Homo sapiens: one gene and its partners. The protein of the gene in region 3 interacts with the protein of the main gene of each other region in a pairwise test. Each region holds a gene or a part of one and is shown on either strand. Other genes may lie near its edges. The genes, in order: TXNDC15, QKI and HLCS.

Evidence for each region.
Region 1: the proteins of HLCS (region 3) and TXNDC15 interact in a two-hybrid assay, tested with the Homo sapiens proteins (one large-scale study listed by BioGRID and IntAct).
Region 2: the proteins of HLCS (region 3) and QKI interact in a two-hybrid assay, tested with the Homo sapiens proteins (one large-scale study listed by BioGRID and IntAct).

Annotation. Positions count from the first base shown.
Region 1 is NC_000005.10:134,887,870-134,891,522, forward strand, and holds part of TXNDC15 (thioredoxin domain-containing protein 15 isoform 1 precursor), read left to right. Parts: coding exon 1-313; intron 314-3,653. UniProt on the Homo sapiens protein: Acts as a positive regulator of ciliary hedgehog signaling. Involved in ciliogenesis.
Region 2 is NC_000006.12:163,571,600-163,575,252, forward strand, and holds part of QKI (KH domain-containing RNA-binding protein QKI), read left to right. Parts: 3' UTR 1-3,653. UniProt on the Homo sapiens protein: RNA reader protein, which recognizes and binds specific RNAs, thereby regulating RNA metabolic processes, such as pre-mRNA splicing, circular RNA (circRNA) formation, mRNA export, mRNA stability and/or translation.
Region 3 is NC_000021.9:36,956,572-36,960,224, forward strand, and holds part of HLCS (biotin--protein ligase), read right to left. Parts: intron 1-3,653. UniProt on the Homo sapiens protein: Biotin--protein ligase catalyzing the biotinylation of the 4 biotin-dependent carboxylases acetyl-CoA-carboxylase, pyruvate carboxylase, propionyl-CoA carboxylase, and methylcrotonyl-CoA carboxylase.

The DNA of each region.
Region 1 (3,653 bases), on a different chromosome or scaffold from region 3:
GCTGTCTGTGATTCCTGGGGAAGCTGAGGACAAAGTGAGTTCAGAGCCTAGCGGCGTCACCTGTGGTGCTGGAGGAGCGGAGGACTCAAGGTGCAACGTCCGAGAGAGCCTTTTCTCTCTGGATGGCGCTGGAGCACACTTCCCTGACAGAGAAGAGGAGTATTACACAGAGCCAGAAGTGGCGGAATCTGACGCAGCCCCGACAGAGGACTCCAATAACACTGAAAGTCTGAAATCCCCAAAGGTGAACTGTGAGGAGAGAAACATTACAGGATTAGAAAATTTCACTCTGAAAATTTTAAATATGTCACAGGTAAGGAAAAATTATTTAGTGCTTTTCTCCTTTTCAGTACATTTATTTTATGATTAATACCCTATCAACTTTGAAATGGAAAATCATGATCTTGATCATATTGTAAGCGAGATAGCATTTAATGGCTGCTTCAGTGAAAATCAACTTTGCCCTCTGTGATGTTTATAGGGAGACGAGGAAATATAACTAGTGTTGATTATGCTTTTCAGATGGCCTAAACCTAGTTATCCTTGGGCCAGTCTCACCACCAAACCTCACGATAGAAATCCCAGTGGACAGATAGTTGCTTGGCACCAAAATCATAGCATTTTTCCTTTTGAGACAGAGTTTTGCTCTTGTCACCTAGGCTGGAGTGCAATGGCATGATATCGGCTCACTGCAACCTCCGCCTCCTGAGTTCAAATGATTTTCCTGCCTCAGTCTCCCATGTAGCTGGGATTACAGGCATGCACTACCATGCCTGGCTAATTTTGTATTTTTAGTAGAAATGGGTTTCACCATGTTGGCCAGGCTGGTCTCAAACTCCTGACTTCAGGTAATCCACCCGTCTCGGCCTCCCAAAGTGCTGGGATTACAGGTGTGAGCCACCGTGCCCGGCCATTTTTCTTCTTCCAAATGAAGTATTTATTTATTACAGAGGCAATTTAAACATATCTGGATTACTAAAATTATAATTTACCATTATTTAGACTAGTAATGCCCCTGGAAAATATGTTATATTGATGAAATTTTCTCTTTCATCAATGACTGACAATTTCTGTGGGGTGGTTCAGAAAACAGAAGGGTAGGATGCATTCACACTGCTTATGTAAGAGAGGTAAATCCTGACTCTAAGAGCTGTGACTGTTGTCAGTGAGGGCACAGCACCTGTAGTGCACATAGCTCCTCCAAGGGCAGTGCTCGGCGCTGGCTTTGCATCCACTCCTGAGTGCCTGTAGATGCTGTGGTCTGTGGGACTCCCACAGGTGTCACTCACATGACTGGGAGAGAGCAGTTTAAACAGTCTGAGTTATGGATTAAACAGGTGGTGGCAGGGACGGTGTACCCTTTTTCTTTTTTTGACACAGAGTCTCACTCTGTCACCCAGGCTGGAGTGCAATGGGATGATCTGGGTTCACTGCAACCTCTGCCTCCCGGGTTCAAGTGGTTCTCCTGCCTCAGCCTCCCGAGTAGCTGGGATTACGGCACATGCCACCACGCCTGGCTAATTTTTGTATTTTTAGTGGAAACGAGGTTTTACCACGTTGGCCAGGCTGGTCTCAAATTCCCGACCTCAACTGATTTGCCCTCTTTGGCCTCCCAGAGTGTTGGGATTACAGATGTAAGATACTGTGGCTGGCTAGGACAGTGTACTCTTGAATTGATCTAACCTTTGGCCAAACATATCGATATGACTGCTTAGTTCAGACTTAGCTCTGCTGAGATGATAGTTTGGATTTGAGATCGTAGTCCTCTAATAATTCCATTTTAGATGGTTTGAGATGCACAATTCAAAGGTGGGGGCAATTGCCTGGACCCTGTGAGTACTTAGTACAGGCATACCTCAAAGATACTACAGGTTTGGTTCCAGACCACTGTGATAAAGCAAATATCGCAGTGTAGCAAATCACGTGAATATTTTGGTTTCCCAGTGCATACAGAAGTTATACTATATTGTAGTTTATTAAGTATGCAGTAGCATTATGTTTAAAAAATGTATATACCTTAATTTAAAAATACTTTATTGCTAAAAAATGCTAACGATCATCTGAGCCTTCAGTGAGTTGTAATCTTTTTGCTGGTAGAGGGTCTTGCCTTGATGTTGATGGCTGCTGACTGATCAGGATGGTAGTTACTGAGGGTTGGGGTGGCTCTGGCAATTTCTTTGAGACAGAGTATTGCTCTGTCACCCAGGCTGGAGTGTGGTGGTGAGACCATGGCTCACTGCAGCCTTGACCTCCCAGGCTCAAGTGATCCTCCCAGCTCAGCCTCCCAAGTAGCTGGGAATACAGGCATGTGCCACCATACCTGGCTAATTTTTTTCTTTTTTTTTTGTAGAGATGAGGTCTCACTATGTTGCATAGGCTGGTCTCAAACTCCTGGGCTCAAGTGATCCTCCTGTCTTGGCCCCTCAAAGTGTTGTGAGTCGTGAACCACCATGCCTGGCCCACAGTTTCGTTTCGTTTTTTTCTTTTCTTTTCTTTTCTTTTCTCTTTTCTCTTCTCTTCTTTTCTCTTCTCTTTTCTTTTCTTTCTTTTTTTTTTGAGATGGAGTCTCACTCTGTCACCCAGGCGGGAGTGCAGTGGCGTGATCTCAGCTCACTGCAACCTCCATCTACCAGGTTCAAGCTATTCTCCCACTGCAGCCTCTCGCCGAATAACTGGGATTACAGGCGTGCTTCACATGCCCAGCTAATTTTTGTATTTTTAGTAGAGACAGGGTTTCACCATGTTGGTCAGGCTGGTCTTGAACTCCTGACCTCAAGTGATCTGCCCACCTTGGCCTTCCAAAGTGCTGGGATTACAGGCATGAGCCACCACACCTGGCCTGTGGCCCACAGTTTCTTAATTCCTTTCACGAAAGAATTCTCTGTAGCATGCAATGCTGTTTGATAGCATTTTACCCACAGTAGAACTTCTTTCAAAGTTGGAGTCAATCCTCTCAAACCCTGCTGCTGCATTATCAACTAAGTTTATGGAATATTCTAAATCCTTTGTCGTCATTTCAACAGTGTTCACAGCATCTTCACCAGGCGTAGATGCCATCTCAAAAACCTACTTTCTTTGCTTATCCATAAAAATCAACTCCTCATCTCTTCAAGTTTTATCATGAGATTGTAGCAATTCAGTCCTATCTTCAGACTCCACTTCTAATCCTAGTTTTCTTGCTATTTCTACCACATCCGCAGTTCCATTCTCCATTGAGGTCTTGAATTCCTCAAAGTCATCCACGAGGGTTGGAGTCAGCTTATTCTAAACGCCTATTAATGTTGATATTTTGACCACCTGCCATGAATCACAGATATTTTTAAAGTCATCTAGAATGGTAAATCCTTTCCAGAAGGTTTTAAATTTATTTTGCCCAAATCCATCAGAGGAATTGCTATCTATGGCAACTATAGCCTTATGAAATGTATTTCTTAAATAATAAGAGTTAAAAGTTGAAATCCCTCCTTGATTCATGGGCTGCAGAATGGATGCTGTGTTAGCAGGCCTGAAAACAACATTCATCTCCTTGTGCATCTCCACCAGAACTCTTGGTTGACCAGGTGCATTGTCAACGAGTATAATATTTTGAAAGGAATCTTTTTTTCTGAGCAGTAGGTCTCAACAGTGGGCCTAAAATACTCAGGAAACCATGC
Region 2 (3,653 bases), on a different chromosome or scaffold from region 3:
AAGTGTAGTGCATTGAAACAAATGAACAAAAAGTAGATACTTTTACTATACAAGGGTGCTGGTGCAGAAAAAAATATATATATTTTTGGAAATGTAGCATTTTATACTTTCAAGTGTTATAAAAAAAAAGAAAAAGAACAAAGAAACCCTTTATTTCATTAAATGATTTTTTCTGGTGGTTGTCAAGAAACAAAAGACCAAAAGAGCCTTTTTGTCTTTCTTTTTTATTTTTTAAGTATTGGAATAAGTCTAAAGAAAAGAAAGTGCCTTATTTTCCTTCATGGTCATTCAGTCAAGTGTCTCATAAAGATCAGCTCCTCCCTCAGAATACAAGTTAATGCATGTTACTCAGTCGCCCAGTATGTGAAAGAAGATATGAGGGAGACAAATGAGTTGATAGTTTGAATTATAGGATTTTTGCCACGTTACCTTGATGCAAATTTGCCAAATCTGATACTGTGAAAAGATTTGATAACTTTTCTAATGCCTGACTAGTAAGTTTTAAAACATCATTCTTTAAAAGAATAGTTTAATACTTTTGGTTATTCCAATCTTCAATGTTAACCCAAAGGATTCTGAGATAAAAATTATGTGTCATCTAAACTTCAGTTTACAGACAAAATTAGAGCTTTGTTTTATTTGGAGAAGGGGGATGCATTCATTTGATTTTGTTTTTTGTTTTTAATTAATTGAATATAATAGGATACCTAGCAAATGTTTTCACAAAAGTGAATCTTTGTGATTTTCATTCTAGAAAACAATGTTTTAAATCACCCAAATTTAATCACATGTCTTTATATCATACCAGATAACTGGTGTAGTGTATCCTTTTACTGTTTCAATAACCTCTGCCTCCCCCACCCCTTAACTTTAAAAGAATGTGAAAAACTAGCATCATAGTGCATATAAATACTCAACCACATTTCAGCTTAAGCTTCTAATTTCTCAAGAAGTTGAAACAGTTAGTTATGTAGTTGAAGCAATTTGTGTGCAAAGCCTACATCTAAACACTTGAGTGAATAATCATTAACTGCTCAGTACCAGACGTGGCAAATCTCAAGTGACAGTGGACCCCCCCCCCCGCCCAGCTTATCAACTCGTCCCCTCTTCCACACCTTCCCAGCATCACAGTCAGAGGTCAGCAGGAAGCTGAGTCATTACCTTCTTGGTGACCTCCCCCACCATCTTGTCTCACTTGGAAACCGTTGTCAGTTTATTTACTATGCAATAGACATTCATTGTTTTGTATCCAGCTAGCTTTGGTTTAATATGCCACTGCTTTGTCTTTCTGTTACACATACAGTTTTGATTTATTTACAATATATGCTGTGCCATTTTGATTTTTATATTGTTTGGTTGGTTGAATAAATTTGCGACACTCAAACACTTGAGGTGATAGTTGTTAAAAACAATACCAGTATTTGATCCAGTTTCATCTCAACTATGTTATACCTGGACATTTTAGATGTTTATCAAAGGTCTTTTATGGGGAAGAAAGTAAATGTATGAAATAATAAATGTGTGACATTTATAGGGAATGTTGGCTCTGAACAAACTTTTGAAAACTTGGTTGACAAAATTTTGGATCAACTGAAAAAAGCATGACTTTTGAAATCTCTGAATGCCTTGGTTCTCAGTATTATCATTCTTTATTGAATTTATTTCTTATTAAAATATGTAGTTTTTAAGACTTTTTTTCTGACAGTATTATGTAATTTTTTAGCGTGGGTAGATGGGAGTGTCGCTTGTATGTTATCGTACAGCTGACATGTATTTTTGTCTATTCTTTATTATCTTAGTTTCATGCTATGTATGTACCATAACCAACCTATTGCCTATGAGAAACATGTAAGATAATGTATTTACAGCCATTGTTACAAGTTTATAATGTATTTTTCTATCTTGTTTTATATGTATGTTATATAACATTCAAAAAGAATTTTTTTCTTGATTGAGAAAAGGATACAAAATGCAAAATCCACAATTTTGATAACTGAAAATTGCCAATTGTTTTGCAGTACTTTATTATATTGGGTGTCTTGTCTTTTTTGGGCTTTTAGTTAGCTAATGAATGAATACATTAGACACTTTTGGGTTTTAGTTGGGATTTTACATAGCTTGCATTTTAATTCTTTGGTTCTTTGCTGTTTCTATTAACCCACAGCATTATTTTAATAAATGTTATAATACCAACCTACTAACTCTGGACTTTGTCTGTTTATTAACCTTTATATGTTTAATTAAAATAAACAAATAAAGACAAAAGAATGTAAAGTCTTGAGTTACTGGACTAACCCTGAAGAACGTGACCACAGATAACATAGTGTGACTTGTTTTTATGTTGTTTGTCAGCTGACAGTTTTGCACACTACTGTTAAAATGGCTTTGGTTATTCTGGTCTTTTAGCTTGGGGGCCGGGGCGGGTGTGGGTGTAGGTGCAGTAGAGATGGGAACAAAGTAGCCTTTGTTTGAGGCATTCTTCTCTTGCCACTTGCCTTTCAGCATCTGCATTACTAATTCCACACCTTATTTTTCCTTCTCCAAAATAATCACTGTCTGCTCACAGCATCGAGTAAAAAGATACATTGTCATGGTATATACCTGGAGAAACCAGTTTGATTCTTTGTTGAACCATTTCTTTTAATTTCTGTAAATAAGTAATTTTATGGTCACATTGTAAAGCAGAGAAACTGTTGATATTTTACCTTTATTTAGATTTTTGTTTTAACTTGACCTTTTTCCTTTGGAAAGCGTTGAACTTGTTTAGCTAACTACTCCTATTAGGGGAGCTTAACTTGGGTAAAGTCAAAGGCCCACTGGCTGTTTCTCATGGTGGCCTGAAGCCCCGCTGCTTTCCAGTGAGGAAAAGAACCCTCAGCACGTTACTGAGCTTTCCTCAGGTATTTTTTTCTCTGTCACCTACTTTACAAATACAGTCAGACTAAAACATTAAACAAGAAGTTTAAGGGGGAATAACATTGGGATTTGAAAAGTTGTATGTGATTAATTTCTTGCATGCAAATCAATTTAAGATTTCTTAAATATCTTCATGCTTTTCTTGGCTGGAACTTGGGTAAATTAACCTGTAATTATGAATTATTTAGTTTAACTCAAGGTGCATTTTTATTTCACAGATTGATACTTGCTTTTTTCTGTGAAACAGTTCTCCTAGATACCAAAATCCTCAGGATGAATTTTTGCATTTGTAAATAACAATTTATCTTTGTAAATTACATTTTATTTATTTAGAGTTCTAAAATTGAGGGCTGAAATGAATGACATGTAATAGAAGACAAAACTGTACCAATACGCTGTTAACCAATCAGACTGTCCAGGTATTCTCATTTCATAAATATGTATACACACATATAAATACACAGAGTAGTGTTAGCTGATGTGAGTGATAACAGCGAATCACCATTGAGATGGTCATTTGGATCATGTAAACAAACCGTGTCATGTCTCTGATGGGAGCGGTGGGTAGTGTACTGTTAGGTGGACAGGTCTTTTAACATGCTACTATTTGTAAAAGTTTCCGTTGCCATAACAGTTCATGTAGTAGTCTGTGAAAATTCGAAGCTGTCTGTCAAGCTGCTAATATACAAGTTGTCATGGTACCATGTAACTTAAATTGATGAATTTCTATGCAATTT
Region 3 (3,653 bases):
CAAAAAAAATTAGCCGGGTGTGGTGGTGGGCGCCTGTAGTCCCAGCTACTCGGGAGGCTGAGGCAGGAGAATGGCATGAACCCGGGAGGCAGGGTTGGCAGTGAGCCGAGATCGTGCCACTGCACTCTAGCCTAGGCAACAGAGCGAGACTCCGTCTCAAAAATAAATAAATAAATAAAAAATAAATAAAAGTCCAAGGAGCCAGAATGGTGGCTCATGGCTGTATCACAGCACTTCGGGAGGCTGAGGCGGGCAGATCACCTGAGGTCAGGAGTTCAAGACCCACCCTGGCCAACATGGTAAAACCCCGTCTCTACTAAAAATACAAAAAATTAGCCGGGTATGGTGGCAGGTGCCTGTAATTCCAGCTACTTGGGAGGCTGAGGCAGAAGAATCGCTTGAACCCAGGAGGTAGATGTTGCAGTGAGCCAAGATTGCACCACTGCAGTCCAGCCTGGACAACAGAGCCAGACTCCGTCTCAAAAAAAAAAAAAAAAAAAGCCCAAGGAATTGGTTACTGATAGAATCTGGAAGTTTGTCCCCTCCAAATCTCACGTTGAAATGTAATCCCCAGTGGTTGAGGTGGGGCCTGTGGGGGAAGTGTTTGGGTAATGGGAACAGATCCCTCATGAATAGTGTGGTGCTGTCCTCCCTATAGTGAGTGAGTTCTCACAAGACCTGGTTGTTTAAAAATGTGTGGCACCTCCCCCAGCTCAGTCTCACTCTCATTCTTGCCATGTGACACACCTGCACCTCTGTCACTTTCTGCCATGACTGTTCCTCAAGGCCCTCACCAGAAGCACATGCTGGCACCACTCTTCCTGTATGGCTCGCAGAACCTCTTCTTTATAAATTATCCAGCTCCAGGTATTTCTTTATAGCAATGCAAGAACTGCCTAATACAGTTACCATATGACAAGGCCTCTTTGTAGTTCAAAAAGAAAAGCCAGATATTAGCAATTTCATGTGATTTGACCTACTTGATTATTTAATTTATATTTTCAATAAATTCAAAATCATTTTTAAAATAAAAATAAAGTTTATGAATCGTCTTTTCTGCATATGAAAATTAGCCCTGAATTGGCTGGGCGCAGTGGCTCATGCCTGTAATCCCAGCATTTTGGGAGGCAGAGGCAGGCGGATCACGAGGTCAGGAAATCATCCCGACTAACATGGTGAAACCCCGTCTCCACTAAAAATACAAAAAATTACCTGGGCGTTGTGGCACGCGCCTGCAGTCCCAGCTACTCGGGAGGCTGAGGAAGGAGAATGGCATGAACCCGGGAGGCAGAGCTTGCAGTGAGCCGAGATCGCGCCACTGCACTTCGGCCTGGGCAACTGAGCAAGACTGCGTCTCGAAAAAAAAAAAAAAGAGGCCGGGCGCGGTGGCTCACGCCTGTAATCCCAGCACTTTGGGAGGCCGAGGCAGGTGGATCCCAAGGTCAGGAGATCGAAACCATCCTGGCTAACATGGTGAAACACCGTCTCTACTAAAAATACAATAAATAAATAAATAAATAAATTAGCCGGATGTGGCAGCATGTGCCTGTAGTCCCAGCTACTCGGGTGGCTGAGGCAGGAGGATGGCGTCAACCTGGGAGGCGGAGCTTGCAGTGAGCCGAGATCGCGCCACTGCACTCCAGCCTGGGCGACAGAGTGAGACTGTCTCAAAAAAAAAAAAAAAAGAAAGAAAGAAAGAAAGAAAATTAGCCCTGAGTTCACCAAAACCGTCGTATCAACAGCTGGTCGTCTTCTACCAAACATAAGAGACACAAGTACTGTTTGACTGGACCTAGGTTAATAAAAGCTTTATTTTGGAATCTCAATGATCTAGATCTCTTTAAAACCATTAATTCGTTCTCTAGTTACTAGAAAGGATAGAAGCATTGGTTAAAATCTTATCTCTCACTTAGCAGCTGGTTAAAACCTTGTCTAGGCCGGGAACAGTGGCTCACGCCTGTAATCCTAGCACTTTGGGAGCCTGAGGCAGGCAGATTGCCTGAGCTCAGGAGTTCGAGACCAGCCTGGGCAACACGGTGAAACCCGGTCTCTGCTAAAATACAAACAATTAGCTGGGCGTGGCAGCGTGCGCCTGTAGTCCCAGCTACTTGGGAGGGTGAGGCAGGAGAATTGCTTGAACCCGGGAGGTGGAGGTTGCAGTGAGCTGAGATCGCACCACTGCACTCCAGCCTGGGCAACACAGCAAGACTCCATCTCCAAAAAAAAAAGAAAGAAAACTTTGTCTGTCACTTAGCAATGATATTCCTATCACTTTAGGAATGTCATTTAATCTTATAACCTAAGTTTTCTTATCTTCAAAATGGCAATAATAATAATGATAATACTTTGTAGAGCCGTTAAGTATTAGTGATGACAGCTGCAGCCAGTCTGGAGCAGGGTAGGCGCGGCCAGGGATACGCGCTCTGTGGAACCAGGGGGAGCTGGGAGCAGGCAGGAGCCCTTCCCGCTTCTGAGTTGGCAGGGCAGGAGCCCAGTGCTCCCAGGCATAACTGCAGCCTCCCAGCCACAGCTGCGGACCTGGGCATCCCTGCACTCTCAGGGGTCCCAGAGGCCCCCGCTTCCCCACAGGCTTGGAAGTGCCTGATCCCGCTGCCTGGCCTCTTCCTGCTCCCTGTGCCCGCTCTGATTCTGGAGCAAAATTGAAGCTGAGCCTGGGCGGTGTCGCAACCCGGCCAGGTGGGTGCTGCTCAGGATGGCGCTGACACACCAGCCCCCTGCCACCTCAGCCCCCCTCTAGACTTTAGGAGCCACTCTGGACCACGAGGATGGGAGGGAGGCCGAGGAGGGGCTGAGGACGGCTGGTTGCAGGCCTGTAGGCACCCCTCAGCACAAACAGCCTGGGCACCTTGGACAACATGACTGACAGCAGAAGGCAGACAGGCTCATAGGTAGAAAGGGGCGGGTCCCTGGTGACGCCCTGCCTTCAAGCCAAGACCAGCCCAAAACCTGGGGACCTGGCTGTCAGTTCCAGGTGAAGCCTGTGGCCCAGAGTGAGAACTTAGAGTGCTTTTTCTGGCCCGCCCATGGCTGCCCATGGACCAATCAGCACGCGCTTCCTCCCTTCTGAGCCCATGAAAACCTCAGACCCAGCCAGACTCACACAGAGGCTGGGACTACCAGCTGCAGAAAGGAGCTACCCACTTCAGGTCTCCTGAGAGCTGTTCTGCCACTCAGTGAAGTTCCTCTCTGCCTTGCTCACCCTCCACATACCTCATTCTTCCTGGATGCAGGACAATAACTCAGGACCCACCGAATGGCAGTACTAAAAGAGCTGTAAGACAAACCAGGGCTGAAACATGTCCCCGTACTCACTACATTGCAGGCAACAAGAAGGAGAGAAGAACTGTGGCCCTTTAAGAAGCCAAGATCTAGGGGCTCCCCAAGCCAAGGCTGTAAACACCCTCTTTGGGGCTCTGCGGTTCCCAGCGTCTCCATGCTTCCAGGTGCCACCATGTTCCCCTTGTCCAGACACAGGTGCCCACAGCAAAAGCCTCATTCAGTACACCTGGTCCAGCCACAGCCTTGCATGGAGCCACCCACCCCCCCCCCCCCCGACCCTGCACTTCTCACCCACACACCCCTTGCCGCTCTGCACCCAGCTTGCCCCTGGTAGGTGTGCAATCTGAGCTGGT